7 linked regions of the Homo sapiens genome follow. The protein of the gene in region 3 purifies or fractionates together with the protein of the main gene of each other region. This does not show direct contact. Each region holds a gene or a part of one and is shown on either strand. Other genes may lie near its edges.

Region 1 (3,500 bases), on a different chromosome or scaffold from region 3:
ACTACAGGCATGTGTCACCATGCCCGGCTATATTTTATATTTTTAGTAGAGAAGGGGTTTTGCCATGTTGGCCAGGCTGGCCTCAAGTGGTCCACTGCCTTGGCCTCGCAGAGTGCTGGATTTACAGGCTTGAGCCACTGCACCTGGCCCAGGTACCTTTGAGAGTTGTAATAATGCGTCATTCTAGGATCCTAATAAAAGAGCCCCAAACTGGAAGGCAGGACACTTGCCTCAACCTAACTGCCTCCCGTGCCCGCATGGCCCGCACGGCTTTCTGCATCTTCATCTGTCAGACAGGAATGGCAGATCCTTTGAGATGAGCCCTCCTATAGGTAGCTCTTTTCTTCTTTCAACAAATAGTTGTCTAGCACTGACTAATAATACCTCCTGACTGACAGCAGATAATTGCCTACTCTTCGCCATGCCCTGTGGCCATTATTTATGTGCATGATCCTAGATATGGTGGTCATTCCCATTTTACAGATGAGAAAACTGAGGCTCCAAAAGGTTAACTGGTATGGTCATACAGCTAGTGTGCAGCACAGCTGGGATTCAAACCCAGGAACCAGCGGTGAGCAAGATCGGACAAAGCCCCTGCCCTCAGGGAGGTTTCCTGGAGTCCTCTGCGATTGTGGGTGAGGGGTGACATGTGCTGTTTGTCTGCATGATGATTTGAATAAAGTTATAACTCTGGCAAGTGCTTATCAAGGAGAGCTCTATGGCAGTGTGTGATAAGCTGACCTGGTGGAGTCTGGAGAGGTCAGGGAAGCAGGTATGTGTGAGGTGGGCGCGTATGCATTCATTCAGTGACTATTTTGTGAGTTTCTGCTCCATGCCATACCCTGTGCTGCATGGAGGGGACACATGGCACCATTCAACCCTGGTGTGCCCCCTCACAGAATTGACATTACAGGGACATGGTGATCCAAAGGAGATTCATCCTGAGGTCCCACAGTGAGCCCAGAGGCAGAGCAGGCACTGACAGTGGCCTCTCTCTCTGCCCACAGTTGGAGAAGGAGGAGCAGATACACAGTGTGGACATTGGGAATGATGGCTCAGCTTTCGTGGAGGTGCTGGTGGGCAGTTCAGCTGGAGGCGCTGGGGAGCAAGACTATGAGGTAAGCAGGGCTATGAGATGGATCCCATACTGACCTCTGCCCCTCATGCTCGCATCACCGTCTCCCCCAGGGGCTGGGGCTGGGAAGACATGGGGCAGATGTGAGTCACACCTGATTGCTGCCCTCTGGAGGATCACCCAGTGTACGGAGGAGACAGAAGGCAGACACAGGGCGGTAAACTGCACATCAGGGAAGAGAGCAAGTTTGGATCATGGCTTAAAATGACACAAATGTATTATTCGACTGTTCTGGAGGTCAGAAGTCTGAAATCACTCTCACTGGGCTAAAATCTAGGTGTAGGCAGAGCCCTGTTCCTTCTGGAGGCTCTAGGGGAGAATCCATTTCCTTGCCTATTTCAGCTTCTAGAGTCCATCTGCCCTCCTCAGCTTGTGACCCTTCCTTCATCAAAGCCAGCACTCCTGTCACTCTAACGCCTGCTTCCACTTCCATTGTTACTTCTCCAACTCTGACTCTCTTGCCTTCTTTTTTTCTTTTTCTTTTTTTTTTTTTGAGACGGAGTCTCGCTCTGTCGCCCAGGCTGGAGTGAGTGCACTGGCGCGATCTCAGCTCCTTGCAACCTCTGCCTCCCGGGTTCAAGCTATTCTTCTGCCTCAGCCTCCCGAGTTGCTGGGACTACAGGTGCCCACCACCACGCCCGGCTAACTTTTTTTTTTTGTATTTTTAGTAGAGACGGGGTTTCACCATATTGGCCAGGCTGGTCTCGAACTCCTGACCTCGTCATCTGCCCGCCTCAGCCTCCCAAAGTGCTGGGATTACAGGCGTGAGCCACTGCGCCTGGCCTTCTTTTTCTTTTGTTCATTTTTTTTTGAGACAGGGTTTCATTTCCGTTGCCCAGGCTGGAGTACAGTGGCGTGTTCTCAGCTCACTGCAACTTCTGCCTCTGAGGTTCAAGTGATTCTCCCACCTCAGCCTCCCAAGTAGCCAGGGCTACAGGTGCACACCACCACTCCTGGCTAGCTTTTGTTATTTTTTATAGAGAGAGGGTTTCACTGTGTTGCCCAGGCTGGTCTCAAACTCCTGGGCTCAAGTGATCCACCCACCCCAGCCTCCCAAAGTGCTAGGATTACAGGCATGAGCCACCACACCCAGCCCTCCTTTCTTATAAAGACCCTTATGATGACACTTGGCCTACCCGGATAATCCAGGGGCATCTCCCCCATTTCAACATCTTCAAGTTCATCACATCTGCAAAGTGCCTTCTGCCACATTTCCAGGTTCAGGGATTAGGATGTAAACATCTTTGAGGAGCTGTTATTCTGCCTGTCTCCTATGTTTTCTTCTAGAAGCTTTCTATTTTTAGATTTTACATTTAGATCTCTGTTTCATCTCAAGTGAATTTTTGTGTATTGTGTGAAGCAGGGGATAAGGTTTATTTTTTCTGTATCTTTTTTTTTTTTTTTTTTTTTTTTGAGATGGAGTCTCACTCTGTTGCCCAGGCTGGAGTGCAGTGGCGCGATCTCGGCTCACTGCAAGCTCCACCTCCCGGGTTCACGCCATTCTGCCTCAGCCTCCGGAGTAGCTGGGACTACAGGCACGTGCCACCATGCCCGGCTAATTTTTTGTATTTTTAGTAGAGACAGGGTTTCACTGTGTTAGCCAGGATGGTCTCGATCTCCTGACCTTGTGATCTGCCCACCTTAGCCTCCCAAAGTGCTGGGATTACAGGTGTGAGCCACCGCACCCGGCCCTTTTCTGTATCTTTTTTATATGTTTGTTGACAATGCTTATTTATTTATTTTATTTATTTTAAGACAGAGTCTCACTCTGTTGGCCAGGCTGGAGTGCAGTGGCATGATCTTGGCTCACTGCAACCTCCGCTTCCCAGACTCAAGGGATTCTCCAGCCTCAGCCTCCTGAGTAGCTGGGACTATAGGTGTGAGCCGCCATACCCGGCTAATTTTTTAAAAAATTTTTTGTAGAAATGGGGTTTCACTACATTGCCTGGCTGGTCTTGAACTCCTGAGCTTAAAGTGATCCTCCCACCTTGGCCTCCCAAAGTATTGGGATTACAGACCTGAGCCACTGCACCTGGCTGAAAATACTTTGAAAAAAAAAAAAAGACTTGCCTTTTCTCATTGAATCATTTTGACTCCTTGTTGAGAATTAATTAACCATATGTATGGGTTTATTTCTGTACTCTCTTCTCTGTTCCATTGATATGTATAGTTTTCTTTATGCCAATACCAAACTGTCTCTTTTTTTAACCATATTATTTATTTATGTATATATGTATTTATTTATTTATTTATTTATTTATTTGAGATGGGGGTCTCACTCTGTTGCTCAGGTTGGAGTACAGTGGCATGATCTCAGCTCACTGCAACCTCTGCCTCCTGGGCTCAAGTGATCCTCCCGCCTCAG
Region 2 (4,022 bases), on a different chromosome or scaffold from region 3:
AAATATAAATCGGCATATTAAAGAGTAAATACATTATTTGTACAATAAAACACCAACAAAACCAGTGCAACTCCTAAGTTCTAAATATGGTGGAAAAATTATATTGTAGTTACTTATTCCTTATATCTTGATTACAATTCAATAAATCACCTTTCTTCTTCTTGTCATGCTTTGAATATAGATTAATTGATGTCAATTTTAGAAATTTTACTTGTTTGTTCTAGTACTTTATCAAGGTATTCAAATTCAGACAAGAAAATACCTCAAAGAGAGTAAATACCATGTTTACAGAAGGATAGGGTTATTTATTTTCTCAGTTGATGTTGGGAGACCAGATTTCATATACAAATAGTATACAACCTTTCTTATGGTGAGCTGCATCTTAGGGGGGAAAATCCTCTTTTAGCGTAACATACAAACACTCACTTGCCAAATAATCATCAAAACATTTTGAAATCAGCATTAAATTTAAAAAGCTCCATCAATCCATATAATCAGTATTTTATTTTGATTCCATTGCTCTATTACCTAAATGGCAATAATTCCTCTGCAATAATGTTGCTATGTGTATGATCCACCTTGAGCTACACTTCAATTTACTTTCAATCAAACATTAATGAAATTGCACTTAGGGGGCCCTTCGAAAATTAATCTCCCAAGATAAATTCCACTTCAAAAAGGACTGATTGTTAAAGCTGGGTTGATTTTTATAGTTACAAACGCCAACAAAGTTTCCAACTTTGAGAGCTGTAGTTAAGAATGCCGTGTGAACTTCTCCACCTTTTCGCGTCATTTAAGAACTTCTAGGAGGAGAAAATCACCACCTCAAAGCCTCGTGGCATAATGTTACACTACTCGGTTTCCGGGCTGTCGCTGTCCCCCGCCCCCAGCAAGAGGTTCACAGCCTGCTCCTCTCTGAGACCGGTTCGTTTTGAATCGCAGTTTACACGCGCGAGTCGGTTTTCGCATGCCTCCCCCATCCGTTCTAGCAGTTTCTTGCAGACCCTTCGGGTGCACCAGGACCTAGCCCCGGGGCGCCCTCGCTGTCACCACGTCCTGCCATAGAGCAGGTTGGCGCCCAGGACGCCGCCGCTGTACTCCCCGGCGGCCGCGTCCAGGGCCGCCAGGCCGCCCCCCGGGCCGTGCAGCGCGGGTGGGCTGGGCGACAGCTCCTCCAGCTCAGGTGCTGGCGTCGGGGCCGGCGGCTGCGGACCGGCCTGGCCGGGGGTGGGCGTGCTGGCGCCGTTCTGGCACGGCTTGCCGTCCTTGACCAGCACAGGCACCGCCACGCGGCGCGGGGACGGCGGCGGAGGCGGCGGCGGGCCCAGGCCGCCCTCCTGCTGCAGCTGCTGCGCCGCCTTGTCCTTGGCCTGCCGTTTCATCTTGTACCGGTGGTTCTGGAACCAGATCTTGACCTGCGTGGGCGTCAGGTGGATCATGCTGGCCAGGTGCTCGCGCTCGGGCGCCGACAGGTACTTCTGCTGCTTGAAGCGCCGCTCCAGCTCGTAGACCTGCGCCTGCGAGAAGAGCACGCGGCGCTTCCTTCGCGGAGCGGCTGCCGCCGCCGCCGCGTGCAGCGGGCCCAGCGACTTGGCGGCGTCCGCGATGCCGGTCAGCGACCCCATGCCGGCCACATTCACGCCCGCCGACGGCCCCATGAACCTGGAGACTGGGGAAGAGTCCCAAGGGGGAAGGCGAGTGAGCTCCAGGCCCGCCGGGAGCCGGTCCAGCCGCCGCTCTCTTCACGCCGCGGCCGCGACGCCGCCGGGCCCTCGCTGAATCCCAAGACCCCCTGACCGCCGCGGCCTCCGGCCCCAGCACGCCCCGCGCGCCCTCGGCGGGTCCCAGAGCACCACGCCCTCAACGGGTCCCAGGACGCCGCGCGCGTTCCCGGTCAGGTCCCAGGACCCCCCGCGCGCCCAGGGTCCCCAGAAACCCCGCGCGTCCCGGGCCGCGTCCCAGGACGCCCCGCGCGCCCGCTCGGCCCCAGGACCTCCTAAGCCGCGCGCACCCCGTCCCGCGCCCCCGCGCCCCTCGGCTGTGGCGGGAAACGCCTGAGCCGCCCGCAGCCCCGCGCTCCTGGCCCCTCTCACTTGACGAGTAGCGTGGGTCCGGGTTGGCGCCGTACCAGCCGGTGGCCGCGCCGCCCCGCATGCCGTCCGTGTAGGCGGGCAGCTCGCCCATGTTGCCCAGGCCGCCGTTGCAGTAGCTGCCCATGGCGCCGTGCGGGAACTGCGAGACGCCGGGCGGCATGTGGTAGGTGGCGGCCGCCGCCGCCGCAGCTGCTGCCGCCGCCGCCGCGGCCGCCGCGTTGTGACCCGCCATGGCGTGAGAAGGCTGCATGCCCGCCACGGTCGCCGCCTGCGAGGAGGGCCCAGGTGGCGGCGCGCGGTAGGCGGCCGCGGCCCCCAGGGGCGCCCCCAGGCCGGGTGGCGCGCCGTCCATGGCGCCGCTGAACTTCTTGTAGGTCTCCTCGATGGGGCTCAGGATGTCGGACACGGAGAAGGGCGTCGTGTGCTTTGGGCTCAACGACATGGCTCGGCGGGCAGCCAGGTAGGGGGGCCTGGGGCGCGCGCCGGCAGGACGCGGCGGCCGCTCGTCGCCGCCACCTCGGCCGCGGCAGCTGAGCCTGTGACGAGGAGTCGGCGGCTCGGCGAGCCCCCCGGGCTGCGGGATCTGGGGTTTATTTTAGTCCGGCGCCAGGTTTACGACAGACTCGGGGGGCGGAGCAACATCCCAAACGAGCAAACAATGGTCATTGACATCTTTTTCTCTCGCCCCCCCAACCCCCGCCCCATAATGGAGGCAAAAAAAGGTAAAAGGGGCAGTTGGGTGTTTCTTGGAAAGATCACTCCCCGTTGCTTTTCCCATCTTTGCTTTTCCCATCCTTTGCTTTTCCCATCCTTCGCTCCTCCATCCGCGGCCGTTACCCCAGCCCTCGAGCACCAGAAATAGAAACTCGGAGGCTGGCGTCGAGGCTAGACATGGACTCCGCGCCTGGCCCCTTCCAGATCCCAGTTTTCTAAAGTGACTTCGCACCAAAGTCCGGTATAATTGCGGAATGGGGAACGTGCTGCTAAGTTTGGGGGGAGGGTGTTGCGGGGGCTTGCTTCGTCCTCTCCAGTTATCAGCCCCTCATTCGCTCCATCACCTAAAGTGTTAAAAAAAAAAAAAAAGGCTCTTGGGTCCCACCGTAAGAGCGCATAAAGAGAGGAGGTACAATGACCGTCCTTTGCCATTGTAGGGCTCCCTAATTTATGCGTTTTTAGACCCTTAAGCATCATTTTGTGGGCAACCAAACGGGCACTTCCAAATTAGCTCAAAGTATCCAAGCCCAGAGAAGAGAGAAAACACACATACACTGATAAATACGCAGATGCTAACTTGTAAGTATTCTGTTTTTCCTCTGTGGGGATGGAAATTGAACAAGGGAAAGAGGGGGAACATTTTTATTTCCTAAAATGTTTCCTACTGAGTTTGCACTTGTAAAGTTTTTTCTGCTTTCTTTCCCTTTGTGTGTGTTCTTACTCTCTTTCTCTCAGTAAATATCTCTGACTTAAGTTTATTCTCCCATCACTACCGTGATCAAAAAGAAGAGAAAGACAAAATATCAAAACTTCCAAATATTTCTAGTTGTTCGCAACGGGTCTTTTTGTTGTTGTTGGAAAAATATAACCTGTTCAAGCGATATGAAAATGGATGCAGAAATCAGGTGAAAATTGTAGTTTCTTTGGAAAAATACAAAACCATAGATAAACAGATTTTTAAAACTTTGTCATCCTTTGACTTGCAGTTTTACCCGAATACTTAGACATTATGAACTCTCTACTAAATACTGAACAAGACAAAGCATAAGACAAAAGCAGTGTGCAAAGCATATTGATTAAATTTTGAAAACAATCTTGCAGCAATAATAATGATAACGAGAAAACAAAGATAACACTTTTAAGTTTTCCTGGAAACTGGAGCAGGAGAAAGAAAAACAAGGAGAGTGCTTTCTTAAGCAATATTTTGTTTTATTT
Region 3 (2,392 bases):
GCAGTTGTTGCTTCTATGGGCCACCCTGGCCTCCTCCTAAAGGAAGGGAATTTAGGACTGGAAAGATAGGCATAGGAGACAACATGTTCTAAGTAAGACACGTCTGCCTCCTCTGTGTGAACTTGCTAACATCTATTAGATATATACCTGCTAGTTTCAAAGCAGAAACATTTTTTCAAGTTGTCCCTTGAACAATGTAGGGATTAGGGCTTCTGACCCTGAGCAGTTGATAATCTGCATATAATTTTTGACTCCCCAAAAACTTAACTGCTTAATAGCCTACTCTTGATCAGAAGACTTACGGACAACATAAGCAGTCACTTAACACATATTTTTGTGTTATACATATTATATACTATATTCTTAAAAAGTAAGCTAGAGAAAAATGTTATTAATAAAATTATAAAAAAGAAAATATACTAACTATTCATTAAGTGGAAGTAGATCATCATAAAGTTCTTCATCCTCATTGTCTTGATGTTAAGTAGACTGAGGAGGAAGAGGAGGGTTGGTCTTGCCATCTTGGGGTGGCAGAGACAGAGGAAAATTCCCATATAAATGGACCTGCACAGGTAAAATCTGTGTTGTTCAAGAATCAACTGATTTCTTTTTAGAGCCTTCTTCTGGCATGTCTGATGTGTGACTGATGCGGCATTCATTAATCCGATTATCAGAGGCTGGGTGTTGATTTTCTTTTATAGGTAACAGAAAAGAAGAAAAACATATTATTTGACCTAAGTGACAACACTGGGAAAATGGAAGTACTGGGGGTTAGAAACGAGGACACAATGAAATGTAAGGAAGGAGATAAGGTTCGACTTACATTCTTCACACTGTCAAAAAATGGAGAAAAACTACAGCTGACATCTGGAGTTCATAGCACCATAAAGGTGGGAACTGCATGGAACAAAGTCAACTCTCCAAGGGGGTGATATTTTTTGTTTTCTATCAGAAAGCCGGACTGGAGCCATTGAACAGGATATAGAGTGGAAGACATTGATATTTAGTACACGTTCATCTCACAGAACTGAGGAACCTCCCTCTTAGGAAACATGTATTCTAGATACACAGTTAAGAGAACATGGGCTTTTCAAGGCAGAGGCGCATATTGTTGTGCCCACAGAGCCCAAAAAAGAGCTCCTTATTTATACTACAAGTCTAAAGCAGAAAGCTTGCCCAGAGTCGGAAAAGTCATTCTGACTAATGTCTTTGAAAGTAGACAGACAATAAATACTTTGAGGACACATTTCCCTAGCCAGTCCCACCACGTCTGCACCTACCATAGTCCAGTGCAGTTAAGTCCATGTAAACCCCTACTCTTGACCTTCCACCACACCCTCCTACCCGTGTCCTGCCACTACTTGGTGCTCTTCCCCAGGTCTCAGTGTTGGTTGCACTGCCTGCTATCTCTGTAAGAGTGGAGGCCAAGATTTGAGAAATATGCGTATGTGACCTTGCTAAGTGGGAGTGTATTTCTCAGGTCAGATATTCACTTCAGGAGTATGATCCAAGGCAGACCAATGTATTAGAAGGGTGGGAACAAAATAATTTTATGAGAAGATGATACATACACTTCAGAAGGCCATAGTGACTGCAAACAGTGGAGGGGCCACTCATCGACTGCATCTCAGACTGCATGTTTTTTTTCTCCATCCAGGTTATTAAGGCCAAAAAAAAAACATAGAGAAGTAAAAAGGACCAATTCAAGCCAACTGGTCTAAGCAGCATTTAATTGAAGAATATGTGATACAGCCTCTTCAATCAGATTGTAAGTTACCTGAAAGCTGCAGTTCACAGGCTCCTCTCTCCACCAAATTAGGATAGAATAATTGCTGGATAAACAAATTCAGAATATCAACAGATGATCACAATAAACATCTGTTTCTCATTCATTACAGTCCCACTATCTCCTTTAGTTTGTCAATCCCTTGTCTCAAGCGAAAATACTTTATCAATGTATTATATGATGTTTATACAAATTTAAAAGTAAACTATATGACAACAATTGCACAAAATACAAGAGGGAAGAATTAGGAGTACACTGTTAGAAGATCCTGTACAACATGTGAAGCAGCGCAGTATTATTTGAAAGTAGATACTGAATAATTAAAGATGTATATTTTGTCCCATAGGGCAATGATTTAGAAATATTTTAAAAGGTATAGAAATAATAACACAATTTTGTGTTATTGGAGAAAGAATAAGCATAAAGCCCAATGGAAAACTAGAGAGCCAAAACTAGGCTTGCACATTTACAGTCTATTGATTTCTACAAAAGTACAACACAGTTCAGTGGAGAAAAGACTAAAAAAAAAGCTACAACAACAATTAGATATCCATACTTAAAAAAATGAATCTGAGCCATTCCTCACTCTTTATACAAAAATAAACT
Region 4 (3,142 bases), on a different chromosome or scaffold from region 3:
TTCTCCTCCTCTTGAAAACATCACTTTTGTGACCTCCGTAAGTTTTCTTCAGCCTTACATTTTTTCAATTTCTTCCAAACTGAGGTGATAACTCTTACAAATTCTTTTTCCTTTCATAAGTAACCATTCCTCATGCATGTATTAGACCTTTAACTGTTAAGAATCTAACATAGTATTTAAAAAGTTAATTTTGAGGTAGCACTAAATTCAAATTACTTTACAATTTGCCATAAATACTGCGTTTTGCTTGACATTAACAGCAGCAATTCCACATTTCAAGAAATTAAGCAGTATTAGTAATACTGCAGGTATCAAAATTTTTTTTTTAAATCTTCAATTACATGTGGGCAGATGAAAACAACTACTAATAGAAATTTAAGGGAAAGATATCCAATTAAGGGAAATGTGTCCTAAAGGAAAAAGTGAATAAAAATTGAGAAAACAATTAAAGAAATGGAAAGAAAAGACCACTTTACGGATTATAAAAGTTATATTTATTCACGATGCTACATTTATTGCATTCCCTTAGAAAAATGGAGAACTGTTTATGTACCCAATCTGCACATATAAAATTTTATACAAATTATGTGTAGCACATAAAGGCCTCTGGTACAGCTAAAATCCTGACACTATAATTTGGGTATTCCTGCTTTAGGGTCTCCAGTTTATCAGGTCTGTCCATAGAAAACAGAAACTGGAATTATAGTCAGTCTTGCTAACACTTAGAAACTACTTTAAAATACAATAAAATTTTCATTTACCCTAAAAGTCCAAATGGGAGGGGATATATTTTGTTACCAATTTCAATGTAACAGTATGACAAATTCACACCTCATTTTGGCTGGGCTTTCAAAATTAAAAAAAAAAAATCACCTTAGTTCTGACATTATCTAAGTTGTGGCTGCTTCAGAAGGTCATATGACAAAATATTTACCAAATAATTAAAAATAATAATAATAATATTCCTTTTACAAAATGGTACAGTAATACCTTAAGGAACCGGAAAATACTAAATGTCTTTGGCTATACAACTAAAAGGCCATTCTTTCAAAAGAATAGGGCATATTCATTTCAGAATCAACTAAAAAAAACAGAAAGCATAACAGAAATATGCATAGAATTTAAGTATACTTTGTCTTGCCTTCTTTTCCCATTCTACCCACATAAGCAAGGAGAATGCAATTTATATAATCTTTCCAGATGAGACTCAATAGCACTACAAAGAAAATACCCAAATTTCTGCAAAGGCAAAGTGAATTAAAATAATTACACAACTAGGTGAAGACTGAAAGGGACAAATGTTATTTGCAATTTTCTTTTTAACTTGTTTTTAAGCCTTACAAGTGTAGAAATTATAGCTAATAAACAAAAAGTCACAATCTTCACAAATGGAACTACAATAGAAAAATAAATCAAATGAAACACTTAGTAATAAATGAAGCCTATTTTATTACTTCAAGTGTTAATGATAAAAAAATTTCAGCACAGCTGTTGCATTTAAAAAAGTGAAACTACATACTATGTTTCTAGCTCAGTAAACAGATGAACCTGATGTCTTTAAATGACATAACAATTGAGCATTGTACAGTACATCTTATGAAGACCCGTAAATTAAAGAACTACTGGTTTAAAGTTAGTGATTATGAAACAAAAACATATTCATAGTTTCAGCTTCTTTTTTCTTCCTCGACCATCAGGTGCGCCATCCATTTTACGTTTCTGTGTCTACAAACAGACAGAAGGATTACTTTTCACAAGACTAATATAAACATGAAATATAGTTGCAGACACATTATAACACTTTAGTAATAACAACTACTACAAAGTAATAGGTATGAGACTTTTCCCCCAGGCTATATAAATCTTTCAAAGCAAACTATAAAGCCTCCAAATAATCTTACCTACTTATTTTACTTACAGAATAAAAAATGTTAATGTTAATAATGACGTTATAAAACTAATGCACAATTAACAGTAGTAGATCAATATCAAATAAATGCAAGCTTCCCAAAATAGTAAGAAACACTTGAGTTTTTAAAAGGCAGTTACATAAGTACCAAATATTATCCAGAGATACTCATTTATTCATGACTTTATAAATTAACCATTTTTTATTAAATTAACTATTATTAAATAACATTTTTTCCCTTTAAGTGTTTGCCTTCACATTGCTAAAACATCACTGAAATAATCAAAGCTTAGAGACTAACAGTAAAAGTCATAATACCACTGCTTTTCCAATGTTTCTTAAATTATTCTAAAATTATAACTTGTATTCTCAATGAGATGTGTACACACTTGACATTTACGAGACATACTTTCCTGATTTTCACGAAGCCCCATATTAAGGACTACCATATCATCAAGAAGTGATTTTTCCCACACAACCCAGTCAAGCTAAATTTGTACTTTTTAAGTATTTCAAGGAAGTCCTAGCTACAGCAATCAGACGAGAGAAAGAAAGAAAGGACATCTAAATCGGAAACAAAGAAGTCAAATTGCCCTATTTGTAAATGACATAATCTTACATTTGGAAAAACCTAAAGACTCCATCAAAAAACTATTAGAACTCATAAACAAATTCAGTGACACTGCAGGATACAAAATCAACATACAACAAACAGTAGCATTTCTATGCCAACAGTGAAGAATGTGAAAAATAAAAAGTAATCCCATTTACAGTAATTACACGTGAAATAAAATACCCAGGAATTAATCAAAGAAGCGAAAGATCTCTAAGATAAACTATAAAACACTGATGTAAGAAACTGAAGACACAAAAAAATAGATATTCCATGTTCATGGATTAGCAAATTCAATATTGTTAAAATGTCCATACTACCCAAAGCAATCCACAGATTCAATGCAATCCTTATCAAAATACCCATGACATTCTTCACTGAAATAGAAAAAAAAATACTAAAATTTATATGGACCCACAGAACACCCAGAAATAGCCAAAGCCACCCTAAGCAAAAAGAATAAAACTGGAAGAATCACATTACCTGACTTAACTTATAGTACCGAGCTATAGTAACCAAAACAGCATGGTGCTGGTATAGAAACAGATACATAGATCAGTGCAACAGTGGAAAAGAACAGAGAACCCAGAGATAAGTCCGTAAAGTCCATACATCTACAT
Region 5 (3,500 bases), on a different chromosome or scaffold from region 3:
GTCAACTGATGGGCACTGACTAGGTTCCAGGCACAAATGTAAGCACCTTACATACACACAGACTCGTCATCGGTTGCAGGAGGTTGGTCCTAATGGTAGCACCCTTCTTTTTACAGAGTAACAGACTGTGACCAGACAGACTGAGTAACTTGCCCAAGGACACACAGCAGGTGGGAAGCAGAGACAGGCTCTGAGCAAAGGCCGTGTATGAGTGTGAGTCTGCACTGTTAACCATCAGGCCAGGCCCCACGAGCATGGGGACCACCCTTCCTTCTCATTCATCTATGTAATGCTGGTAGTTAATGCCACACCTGACACATCACAGGGGATTCACATATACCCAATAAGTAGGTGTGACTGAATTATAACTTCCCCTGGGAACTGCCCTGCCATTCCAGGATGCTCTATGAAACTGTACACTTTCCTCATGCTTTCACTTATTTTTAATCAGTTTTTTCCCCATGTACCCTACCCCATGCTGGGAATTCTGACCATAGGACTGAAGCAAATCATCAATGTTGGCAGAATAATTCTTCCTCATTTTCTCTAAAGAGAAGCAAATACATTCCTATTTGTTTAGGAGAGACTGTAGGTTTCCCATTTTAACATGGGAGACTGTGACCAAGAAAGAGCCAGGGGAAAGTGACAAGATCCGGCTCCTCCTCTCCTTTCTGAGTCGGGAATGGCCGTGTCAATTTGCAGGTGGAGAGACGGCAGCTCTAAAAGCGAACTGGGTTTCACCACGTTTTCTTGAGATTTGTGCCCTCCTCAAGGTTGGAGCTCTGGCTTTCCAGTATCTCCCTTGCCCTTGCATGGCAGAAGCAAATGGAGATCTTTTCCAAAAGGGGATTTCTAATTACAATAACATAGATGACATTTAAAAAGAAGACGGGAAAAAAAATAAATAAATAAAAAGGCTGGGCAAAAGCTGGCTCGATCTTCATTTCTCCACAAAAAGTTCTCCTAAGAATTAGCCAGCTACCTAGGTAAGTGTGTTCTAACAATTTGTATCTATGTAGGCTGGAAAAAAAAAGGAAACTCAAGACCCACAAATATAAAAATCATACCTGGAAATTCTCAACTCATCTGTTCTCATCTAAGATTTAATATTTACAGAGATGCCAATGAAACAGGTAGGATGATACAGTCATTAAATGAAATCTGGGCAATTTCAGAAAAAACAAAACAAAAACAAAACAAAACAAAACAAAAAAAACTTCCCAAAGACAAGACCAGAACCCCTGAGACCCCACCTTCCCCAACAGGGCTCTGTCAACCCTCAATCCCCATCTGGGCCCTACTCATCTTTCCCAGGTAGCCATGCCCTCTTGCTGTCTCATCAAATCATCTTTCTGCAGGGGATGCCACCCAGGGTAGATGAGACAGGCTGCCTTCCCCTGCCACAAGCAATGAAATTAAGAATGCCACAAAACATGACTCTAATGACTGCTGGTAAGCCACAGCGCTTGGAGGCCACTCGTCGAAGCCTAGAGTTAAGTCCCTGGCAATGCGTACATTATATTTGGAGGAAAGCAGAAAGCAAACACCCATTAACGATCCTGACAAAGGAAACAACCCTTGTGGTGATTATTAGCTGGAACTGGCATATGGTGTCTGAAATGGATTCCAGAAATTGTGGTCTGACCTTTCATTCTAAAAGTACTGAGACATACAACAGTTTACCTGTAATATAGTGAAGTCAGATGATGAAGTATCTAAATTGTTTATAGTTTCTTTGTCCTCTATCTGTAAAATAAATGGAGAAAATACAGTTCATCACACCAACAATAACGTAACATAATGGTACATCTGTACAATGAAAAGTGAACAGCTATGAAAATAATTCACAACAAAATTTTAAACCCAGGGCAGAAATCAAAACACTATTATAGTATAATTGCAGCTAAACTGAAAAAAAAGTTGTATGTAAATGTCCACCTGCACATAGACTAGGAAATCTACTAATATGGTAGCTATGTAGGTTTTAAGATGCAAAAGAAAGAAAAAAAGTCTAAGTCAAACAGAAAAGAGATGAAAATGAGTGCACAGCCTCTAAGTGGATCTGAGCACAGGGTGAGGGCTGTTCTTCCAGGAGCAATGGCTAGAGTCCTGCTGAAGTGGAGCCTTCAGCCACCGCTGCTCGCCCAGCCTGGATGCTGAGGATGTGGGACCTGCTGCCCCTGGGGTAGGTACCTCCCTCAATGGAACAGCATCTCCCAGCATGAGGGTGAGGACAGGAGCTCGAGACTGGCAATATCCTATGCCCTACTTGCAGGGGAAGAATAGCTTTTATTCTAAGAAGTAGGCTCTGCCCAATAAGGCAAAGGATTCCCCAAACAAAGAAAGGGGGTTCAGATAATTTGTGACTGAAACCAATTTTGGCCATCTGCTCTAAAGCCCTGAAATTTGAGATATACTTAGGGGGAGACGTTTTCAGATATTTTATAACCAGCATGTATTTTTATCACTATATTTCACTAGGAAAGACACGCACACGATCAGAAGACTCAAAAGGTACAAAAGCCCATTCACTGAAAACCACTCTCCACTACTCCTTTCTTCCTGCCATGCAGTGGTCATCGCATATGCTACACACGTGTTTAAGTGCCAAAGACCATCTCCCCTTAGACATCTGCACCAGGGGCAGCACATCATTCTGAACCCTCCCCAAGTGTCACTTCTCTTTTGGAGATTGTTTGAGTTCACACAGATGTGCTTAATTCATTTTGATGGTTACACTGCAGTAAAAACTGTATTCGTGGTGGTACATTTCATAACTCTACGGTGCTTTCTAGATGCTAGGCATTGAACTAGGCTGGGAAACACTTTGTTGGAGCTGCCTAGTAAATTCTTCAGGAATTGTAGAACAGATGAGTCAGGACTCCTCTCTGACACTAAAGCACAAAAGCAGCCATAGACAACAGTATCAATAGGTGTGGTTGTGCTCTCAGAAAACTTCATTTACACCATGAGACCCTGTCTTGAAAAAAAGCAAAACAAAGCAAAAACAAAAAAACCCCAAAACAAAAACAAAACAAAACAAAAACAACCCAGGTGACAGCCAACTTGATGACTTCTGCTTTAAGTGTATAATAAACATCCATCCATTGAATCTTCCGAAAACCTCTTGCAAGTGAGGAGCAGAGGTTAAGGAGTTTGTCCAGGGACACACAGAAATTGATCCATCTCCAGAATCTACCTCTGAACTCTTTTTTTTTTTTTTTGAGAGTCTCACTCTGCCGCCCAGGCTGGAGTGCAGTGGCACAATCCTGGCTCACTGCAACCTCCACCTCCCTGGTCCAAGTGATTCTCCTGCCTCAGCCTCCTGAGTAGCTGGGATTACAGGTGTGAGCCACTGTGCCCAGCCAAGCCACCGCACCTGGCCTCAACCCTTAAAACTAAACTGCTTCCAGGCATTTAGGATGTTTCCAGCTTTTGTTGCAGAATGTATGATTTTCTGCTTAGGAGGGAAAAAAACAGCCTTAAGAAGATGCAGCCAT
Region 6 (3,500 bases), on a different chromosome or scaffold from region 3:
ATCACGAGGTCAAGAGATGGAGACCATGCTGGCCAACATGGTGAAACCCCATCTCTACTAAAAATACCAAAAAAATTAGCCGGGCATGGCAGCAGGCGCCTGTAATCCCTGCTTTTCGGTAGGCTGAGGCAGGAGAATCGCTTGAACCCGGGAGGCAGAGGTTGCAGTGAGCCCAGATCGCACCACTGCACTCCAGCCTGGCGACAGAGCAAAATTCTGTCTCCAAAAAAAAAAAAAAAATTATTAGTGCCAGGCACGGTGGCTCATATCTGTAATTCCAGCACTTTGGGAGGCCGAGGCAGGCAGGTCACGAGGTCAGGAGTTCGAGACCAGCCTGGCCAGCATGGTGAAACCCCGTCTCTACTAAAAATACAAAAAAATTAGCCAGGCGTGGTGGCAGAAGAATTGATTGAACCCAGGAGGTGGAGGCTGCAGTAAGCTGAGATTGTGCCACTGCACTCCAGCCTGGAAGACAGAGCAAGACTCCGTCTAAAAAAAAAAAAAAAAAACCAAAACATTATTAGTATTACTACCCCTTTTCAGGTAGAAAAGCCTATTTTTTAGAAAATTGTCTAGGAAGTTGAGACTACTGAAAGTTTATCCTCTGGACAAGTAGAGTATAGTCAACTCTATATCCACAGGTTCTGTTATCTGTTGATTCAACCAACTGCAAAACAAGATTATTTGGAAAAAATGGATGGTTGCATCTATATTAAACACGTACAGACTTTTTCTTTTCTTTTTTTTTTTTTGAGACGGAGTTTCGTTCTTGTTGCCCAGGCTGGAGTGCAATGGCGTGATCTCGGCTCACTGCAACCTCTGCCTCCCAGGTTCAAGCAATTCTCCTGCCTTAGCCTCCAGAGTAGCTGGGATTACAGGTGCCCGCTACCACACCCGGCTGATATTTTTTGTATTTTTAGTAGAGAGGGGGTTTCACCAGACTTTTGTGGGGGGGGGGGTCATAATTCCCTAAACAATACAGTGTAACTATTTACATAGCATTTACATTGTATTAGGTATTATAAATAATCTAGAGCTTAAAGTATGCAAGAGGATGAGATTGTGAGTTATATGCAAATACTAAGCCATTTTATATAAAGGACTGGAGCACCCGCAAATTTTGCTATCTACAGGGGTCCTGGAACCAGTACCTACCAGATATGGAGGGACAACTTTAAGACTATGAACAGGGACCTCTCTCAGCCTTAGTTTCCTATTTTGTAAAATGGAATCATAATCCAACTTGCAGTGCTATCTTAAGTTTTATAGGTAAGTATACATAAAGCATATTGTGACATGTATCACATATGGTAGGCTATCAGAAAATGGCGGCTATTTTTCTAATAATTATTTTTGTAGCAAATAGAAAAAATGGTTATAACTTAGATTTTAAAATTCTCACCACCCCTGATTCCGTTATTCCCCTTTTTCTATGGGTTCATCAACGTGGTTGAAAAATATACTGAGCATCTGTTTCTTAGTTACAACGAAACAAACATGTTCCACCTTAGTCTCAAGTAATTCCAATTTGCAATTTTTCAAATCACTTTGCAATTTCTCAAACAGATCTTTGCTTATTTTACTTATAGGCCACCTCTTTAAATCACTTGCTTTAGTCTGGCTCAGCTTTCTGAATCTTAAGGATTATTGTTGGCTTTTGAACACATTTGTTTCCGTTGTTTTTTTCCCCATCTTATCATGTTTATTTGAACTAGTTCTCTGTTTCTTTATCATTGTGTTACTATTTGTTTTGTGACTACAGTTGATTGTGCTGATTATCTGTCCTTTAAATTTGCTCTTGGTGGGAAAATGTAAGCTAGTCAGCTCCAGTGAAAAAGACTATCAAGAATAAGATCTGGGAAAATATTTTTTTAATTTGTAAAAGCTGTATAGCCCTACAGATTGTCTGCGTTCTAATTATAAAAGCTATAATTAAGAAAGAAATCCCAGTATTTACATTGTAACTTAGCATCACTTCTTGCCAATCAGTTCACATGAAAACTATACATTTCTCCTGGAAAATGTCTGAATATACTTTGACAGGCTTCTGGAAGCAAGATAATCCTTACCAAATCTTGATTAGAAAGCATAACGTTGCTACAGTACAACGTGACAGTGCAGTAAAAACACACAAGACTGCCAGAAAGCAAGCAGAAGAAAATGATATTTTTATACATGCATCTCAAGTTTAAGAACACAAATGAGCCTAATTACAGAGGATGGCTGGCATATTTTGACAGTCTTGGCTATTATCACATTGTCACATTATAAACTTCACTGTGTTCCTTGCCATAAATTGTGTGCTGCTTTTCAACCACAATGCATGATAAACTTAAAAAAAAAAAAAGCATGTCTATGAAATAGAGAACACTGTAACATTGCAAACATGAAGAAAAACTCTTCTTAAATTAGAATTTTAAATATATTAGTATGCTTTATAACCTTAAACATCCTGTCATGATTTAAAAATTAGGTGTCATTTCGTCCCTAAGCATTTTTGTGCCCACTTGACCTGTATGGCCTCTATCCCATATATCCATATACACAGGGTATGACAGGTGCTTGCAAAGCCCTAGTCTATAGTAGAGACATATATGAATGAAAGGTGCCTAAAGTGAAGTAGAGTCTTCGGCTCAAAACTCAGCTTTCTACATCTCAAGTCAATATTTCTAAGCATAATAAATTGAAAAATAGTAATAATTCTGAAACTGGGCTGGACATGGTGGCTTATGACTACAATCCCAGCACTTTCAGAGGCTAAGGTGGGAGGACTGCCTGAGCTCAGGAGTTCAAGACCAGTCCAGGCAACAGAGCGAGACCTCATCTCTAATTTTTAAAAGAAAAAAAAAATTTCTGGAACTACAAAAGACTTCCTCTTATAGAAAGAAAATAAAGGTTTTCTATCTGAGCCATTTTCCTGTCTTTGATGTAATTATCATCAGTCTCAAGTCTCAAAGTTTAATCTAGGAACTCCACAAATTAACTGATACCCAGAGATGCCTCTAAGGCATTGATAAATTTTAAAACCTTTGCAAACATAACAAAATATACTTTAGAAAATCCACAAGCTATAATTTTTTTAGTGGTATCTTTCCTATACTGGACATGAACTCAATACCTTGGTGTTTGTTAGCCAAAAAATTACTTACTTAACACAAAATTTCAATGTATGATATCATGTCATCTGAACAAGAAATATACTTAAGTATTCTCCAGTATTATTACAGATGTGGGTGGTGTTATTACAACTCAGATGTACTCTTTCTGCTGGTATCGTCATGGACTGAATGTTTATGTCCCCAAAAGCTGATATGTTGAAATTCTAACCCCCAATTTGATGGCATCTGGAGTGGGGCCTTTGAGAAATAATTGGGTTGTAAAGGTGAAGTCCTCTAAATGGGATTAGTGCCTTGTGAAGAGATCCAGAGATCTTGCTTCCTCTCTGCTCTTTGCCATGAGAGGATACAATCAGAAAGCAAGCCCTCCCCAGATACCTGATC
Region 7 (3,500 bases), on a different chromosome or scaffold from region 3:
AACCAGAATGTTACAATGGTATATCCCTTGCTCTAGAAAGTTTTATCTACTGACTAGAAGGACTCTGCCTCCTGGCACAGTTCACTTGGTATATTCCAATCACTACGAGATCCAACTACTTGTTATAACCCACAGCAAGTTTGAAAACTTTTGTTATGCTTCAAGGCCAGGCGTGGTGGCTCACACCTGTAATTCCAGCACTTTGGGAGGCCAAGGCAGGTGGATCACTTGAAGTCAGGAGTTCAAGACCAGCCTGGCTCACAGGGTGAAACCCGGTCTCTACTAAAAATACAAAAATTAGCCAAGCGTAGTGGCGTACACCTGTAATCCCAGCTACGTGAGAGGCTGAGGCACGAAAATCGCTTGAACCCAGAGGCTGCAGTGAGCCAAGATCGCACCGCTGCACTCCAGCCAGGGTGACAGAGTGAGACTCTGTCTTAAAAGAAAAAAAAGGTAAAAATAAAATAAAACAAAATGCTCCAATCATTACATGGTCTGGTGTATATGTCCCGATGACCTGAATCCCTTGGTACATTCAAGTTGCTATAAGATGCTCATCTCGGCCGGGTGTGGTGGCTCACGCCTGTAATCCCAGTACTTTGGGAGGCCGAGGCAGGCAGATCACGAAGTCAGGAGTTCAAGACCCGCCTGACCAACGTGATGAAACCCCGTCTCTACTAAAAATAGAAAAATTAGCTTGGTATGGTGGCACGTGCCTATAATCCCAGCTACTCAGGAGGCTGAGGTAGGAGAATCGCTTGGACCTGGGAGGCAGAGGTTGCAGTGAGCTGAGACCGCGCCACTGCACTCTAGCCTGGGTGACAGAGCGAGACTCCGTCTCGAAAAAAAAAAAAAAAAAAGATTATCATCTCTTGGTACTTCTCACAGCAAAGCCCAAGCACTTTGATATGCCCTACTGTCTCAGTGAACTCCCCACCTGTATCTCTCACAGTCTACATGGTCCACCTCTCAACACAGTCCAACAAGGTCCAAAGGCATTGTTGACATACCCTGTTCTCGTCATAAGGCCTCCCTCTCTATCTTAGCACAATCAAGGCAAGGGTCTCCTATACACACAGCCAGACTGAGTATGGTCTTGGTGATACAGAAATGCCCTAATTTTCAGACCAACCTCCCATCTCAGGGCCTCACCGTGCTGGGGAGCTGCAGTCCTGTGGTGCCTCCGGGCAGATAGCTGAGCATTTCATCATTGTAACTGGACTCCAGGCTGATGATCTCATCAATGACATCATCAATCTAGGGGAAGAAGTAAATATTATACAGGTTTAGAAGAATTTGGGAGGGGAATGTGGGAGGAGGTTTGGCTGTAGCCTCTTACCTCCTTCTCTGAGCTGGACCCGATGGTGAGCAGCGCCATGGGGCTGTTGGGCGCACTGCCTGTGGGGCCGGTAGTGTGGGCAGCCTCAGGGGCAGGCAGTGGCTGGGCACTTGCGGGCCCCGGCGGTGGGGTGAGGGCCTGGGAAGCCAGCTTGGGCCCGAGTGTGGTGGACAGGTACTGTTTCACCTGCTGCCGGCGCGCCTGCTGCAGGTGGTAGCGCGTTGGGTTCTCCAGATGGGTCTGCACCTGTGAAATAAGGTAGACAAGGAAAGAGAGGGGACAAGGCAGAACAGGACTCAAAGGGGTGAATTCTGAGCCCCAGCCTGACCCTCCTAACTCATTGGTGCCTAGACTCACGCAGACAAGCTGGGCCCAGAATCTGAGAACACCCCAAAAATATTAGCGAGTCTCCCCCAGGACCCAAACTCTCTTTCTCAGAAATCCTTCACAGCTGCCAAGATCCACCCATGACTGACAGGATCCCTCGTAGTTTCTGGAAAACCCTGTCACAGTCCCCAAGATTCCCCACCTAGTCTCTGACACCACCTAATAGACCTGGGAACCATACAATGCTTCCCAAGACCCCCTAATGGCCAAAGAACTAATGTATCCCACACACATGAAGCTCTTCCTACAAAGCCAGGGCCCACTTGGGGCACTCATGAGCCTCCATGGTCCACCAAGACATCCTCATGGCCCCCACGAACTCCTCGCAATTTCACAAGATCATCTCAGAAACCCAAAACACATGAGACATGAACACAGATAATTTAAACAGTACCAGGGACCTTCCTTAGAGCCCCTAAGACCTTGCCCCCAAATCACCAGTGCATCGAGGCCATCCCTAGCTCCTAGGATCACTCCTCAGTCACCAGGAGCCCCCTCCCAGGGCCTCTGGATCTCACCTTACCTTGAGCACCTCCCTGGGCACCTGAGCAGGGGGTGGACGGCTCAATGTGTGGCCCCCAGCAGAGACGCCAACCACAGAGATGGCAGGAGAGGCAGGTGCAGGACTGGGGAAGGGAGCCGCGGCGGCCTGTTCCCGACGCTCACGCCTCTCCTGCTCCTGCGCCTGGGCCCGCATTAGCTGCTGCCGCAGCAAGACCCTCGATGAAGAAGATGACGACATGGCAGGGGTCCTGGAGCCCCCTGCAGAAGACGATGCAGAGAGTGTAGCTGGGGTGGCTGGTGTGGCCTGCAGTGATATTGGGAGGCTGTGGAATGGGAAATATGGGGCCATATTTTAGGTAAGCTAAAAGTCTCATCCCAAGCCTAAAGGGTCTTAGCGTGACGGAGCAGACACAGGAACCAGGCCTGTTCTCTGCCTTCCGAGGCCACAATGTAGAAGCAGAGACACAGGAACCAGGCTTGGTGATGGCTCTCAGGGGTCACAGTCTGATGGGGGACACACTGGAGGTCAGTCTGGTGGGGGAGTTTTAGCCTTTGGTCCTTATGGTGAAGCCTAGATTTGAGCCTGTTCACATATTAAGTGGAGATGCTATTGTTCAGCTCTGCAAGGGGGGGTTTGTCCTATTTACAGGAGAGCAGAAGAAGCAGAATTGAGGCTTTGGCAGCAGAATGTGGATACAGAGGGCTCCTAAGCCCAATGTGAGGCTAGAGAAGCTCTCTGAGCTCCTGGGGGTGGGCGTCAGGTGATAGGAGAAGCCCCAGGTTCCTCTTCTTCCCCTGCCTGGGCCTCTGGTCCCAGGAGCTAGTCAGTCTTGAAAACCTCGGAGATTTCACAATACTCTCTTCCTGCCCCTCTTCCCCCTCCCCTCCCCTCTCTCAGAGCCCGGGCCGATGACTCAGCACATTTAGACTTCCAAGCTTGGGGAAAGAAGAGACCAGCAGGGGCTCCTCAAGGGCTGAGGGTGGGTGAGTTGGTAGTGTGGGAAGGGACTGAGTTGGGGCTAGAGGCATGTCCCCGCCCACCCGGGGACATGAGTTTAAGCAGGCCACGCCCTATCTCTGAGCACTCCAGGCCGGCTGGAACACCTGAGGCTGAAACACTTGCATATGAATGGGTGTGCAGGTGGGCTGGGGGCAGGCAGGGGAGGTCTTGACAGAGATACTGGAATCCTAGCTTGGCCACCTACTTTCCTGTGTGACATGCTCTTTCTGGTCCCTAATTTTACCACCTAGAAAACGCAGGCTGGTGAAA

What was found.
Region 1: the proteins of AIM2 (region 3) and XRCC1 purify together in Homo sapiens (affinity purification with mass spectrometry; one large-scale study listed by BioGRID and IntAct). This does not show direct contact.
Region 2: the proteins of AIM2 (region 3) and NKX2-4 purify together in Homo sapiens (affinity purification with mass spectrometry; one large-scale study listed by BioGRID and IntAct). This does not show direct contact.
Region 4: the proteins of AIM2 (region 3) and SMARCA5 purify together in Homo sapiens (affinity purification with mass spectrometry; one large-scale study listed by BioGRID and IntAct). This does not show direct contact.
Region 5: the proteins of AIM2 (region 3) and SAFB purify together in Homo sapiens (affinity purification with mass spectrometry; one large-scale study listed by BioGRID and IntAct). This does not show direct contact.
Region 6: the proteins of AIM2 (region 3) and IKZF5 purify together in Homo sapiens (affinity purification with mass spectrometry; one large-scale study listed by BioGRID and IntAct). This does not show direct contact.
Region 7: the proteins of AIM2 (region 3) and TFE3 purify together in Homo sapiens (affinity purification with mass spectrometry; one large-scale study listed by BioGRID and IntAct). This does not show direct contact.

The regions. Positions count from the first base shown.
Region 1 is NC_000019.10:43,558,528-43,562,027, reverse strand, and holds part of XRCC1 (DNA repair protein XRCC1), read left to right. Parts: intron 1-1,007; coding exon 1,008-1,118; intron 1,119-3,500. UniProt on the Homo sapiens protein: Scaffold protein involved in DNA single-strand break repair by mediating the assembly of DNA break repair protein complexes. Negatively regulates ADP-ribosyltransferase activity of PARP1 during base-excision repair in order to prevent excessive PARP1 activity.
Region 2 is NC_000020.11:21,394,865-21,398,886, forward strand, and holds NKX2-4 (homeobox protein Nkx-2.4), read right to left. Parts: upstream 2,663-4,022; 5' UTR 2,536-2,662; coding exon 2,094-2,535; exon of another isoform or gene 1,999-2,093; intron 1,670-1,998; coding exon 1,047-1,669; 3' UTR 501-1,046; downstream 1-500. UniProt on the Homo sapiens protein: Probable transcription factor.
Region 3 is NC_000001.11:159,061,984-159,064,375, reverse strand, and holds the end of AIM2 (interferon-inducible protein AIM2), read left to right. Parts: intron 1-701; coding exon 702-890; intron 891-1,657; coding exon 1,658-1,684; 3' UTR 1,685-1,892; downstream 1,893-2,392. UniProt on the Homo sapiens protein: Sensor component of the AIM2 inflammasome, which mediates inflammasome activation in response to the presence of double-stranded DNA (dsDNA) in the cytosol, leading to subsequent pyroptosis.
Region 4 is NC_000004.12:143,551,702-143,554,843, reverse strand, and holds part of SMARCA5 (SWI/SNF-related matrix-associated actin-dependent regulator of chromatin subfamily A member 5), read right to left. Parts: intron 1,726-3,142; coding exon 1,660-1,725; 3' UTR 1-1,659. UniProt on the Homo sapiens protein: ATPase that possesses intrinsic ATP-dependent nucleosome-remodeling activity.
Region 5 is NC_000019.10:5,643,583-5,647,082, reverse strand, and holds part of SAFB (scaffold attachment factor B1), read right to left. Parts: intron 1,747-3,500; coding exon 1,684-1,746; intron 1-1,683. UniProt on the Homo sapiens protein: Binds to scaffold/matrix attachment region (S/MAR) DNA and forms a molecular assembly point to allow the formation of a 'transcriptosomal' complex (consisting of SR proteins and RNA polymerase II) coupling transcription and RNA processing.
Region 6 is NC_000010.11:123,002,296-123,005,795, forward strand, and holds part of IKZF5 (zinc finger protein Pegasus), read right to left. Parts: intron 1-3,500. UniProt on the Homo sapiens protein: Transcriptional repressor that binds the core 5'GNNTGTNG-3' DNA consensus sequence. Involved in megakaryocyte differentiation.
Region 7 is NC_000023.11:49,036,858-49,040,357, forward strand, and holds part of TFE3 (transcription factor E3), read right to left. Parts: intron 2,554-3,500; coding exon 2,250-2,553; intron 1,586-2,249; coding exon 1,340-1,585; intron 1,258-1,339; coding exon 1,153-1,257; intron 1-1,152. UniProt on the Homo sapiens protein: Transcription factor that acts as a master regulator of lysosomal biogenesis and immune response.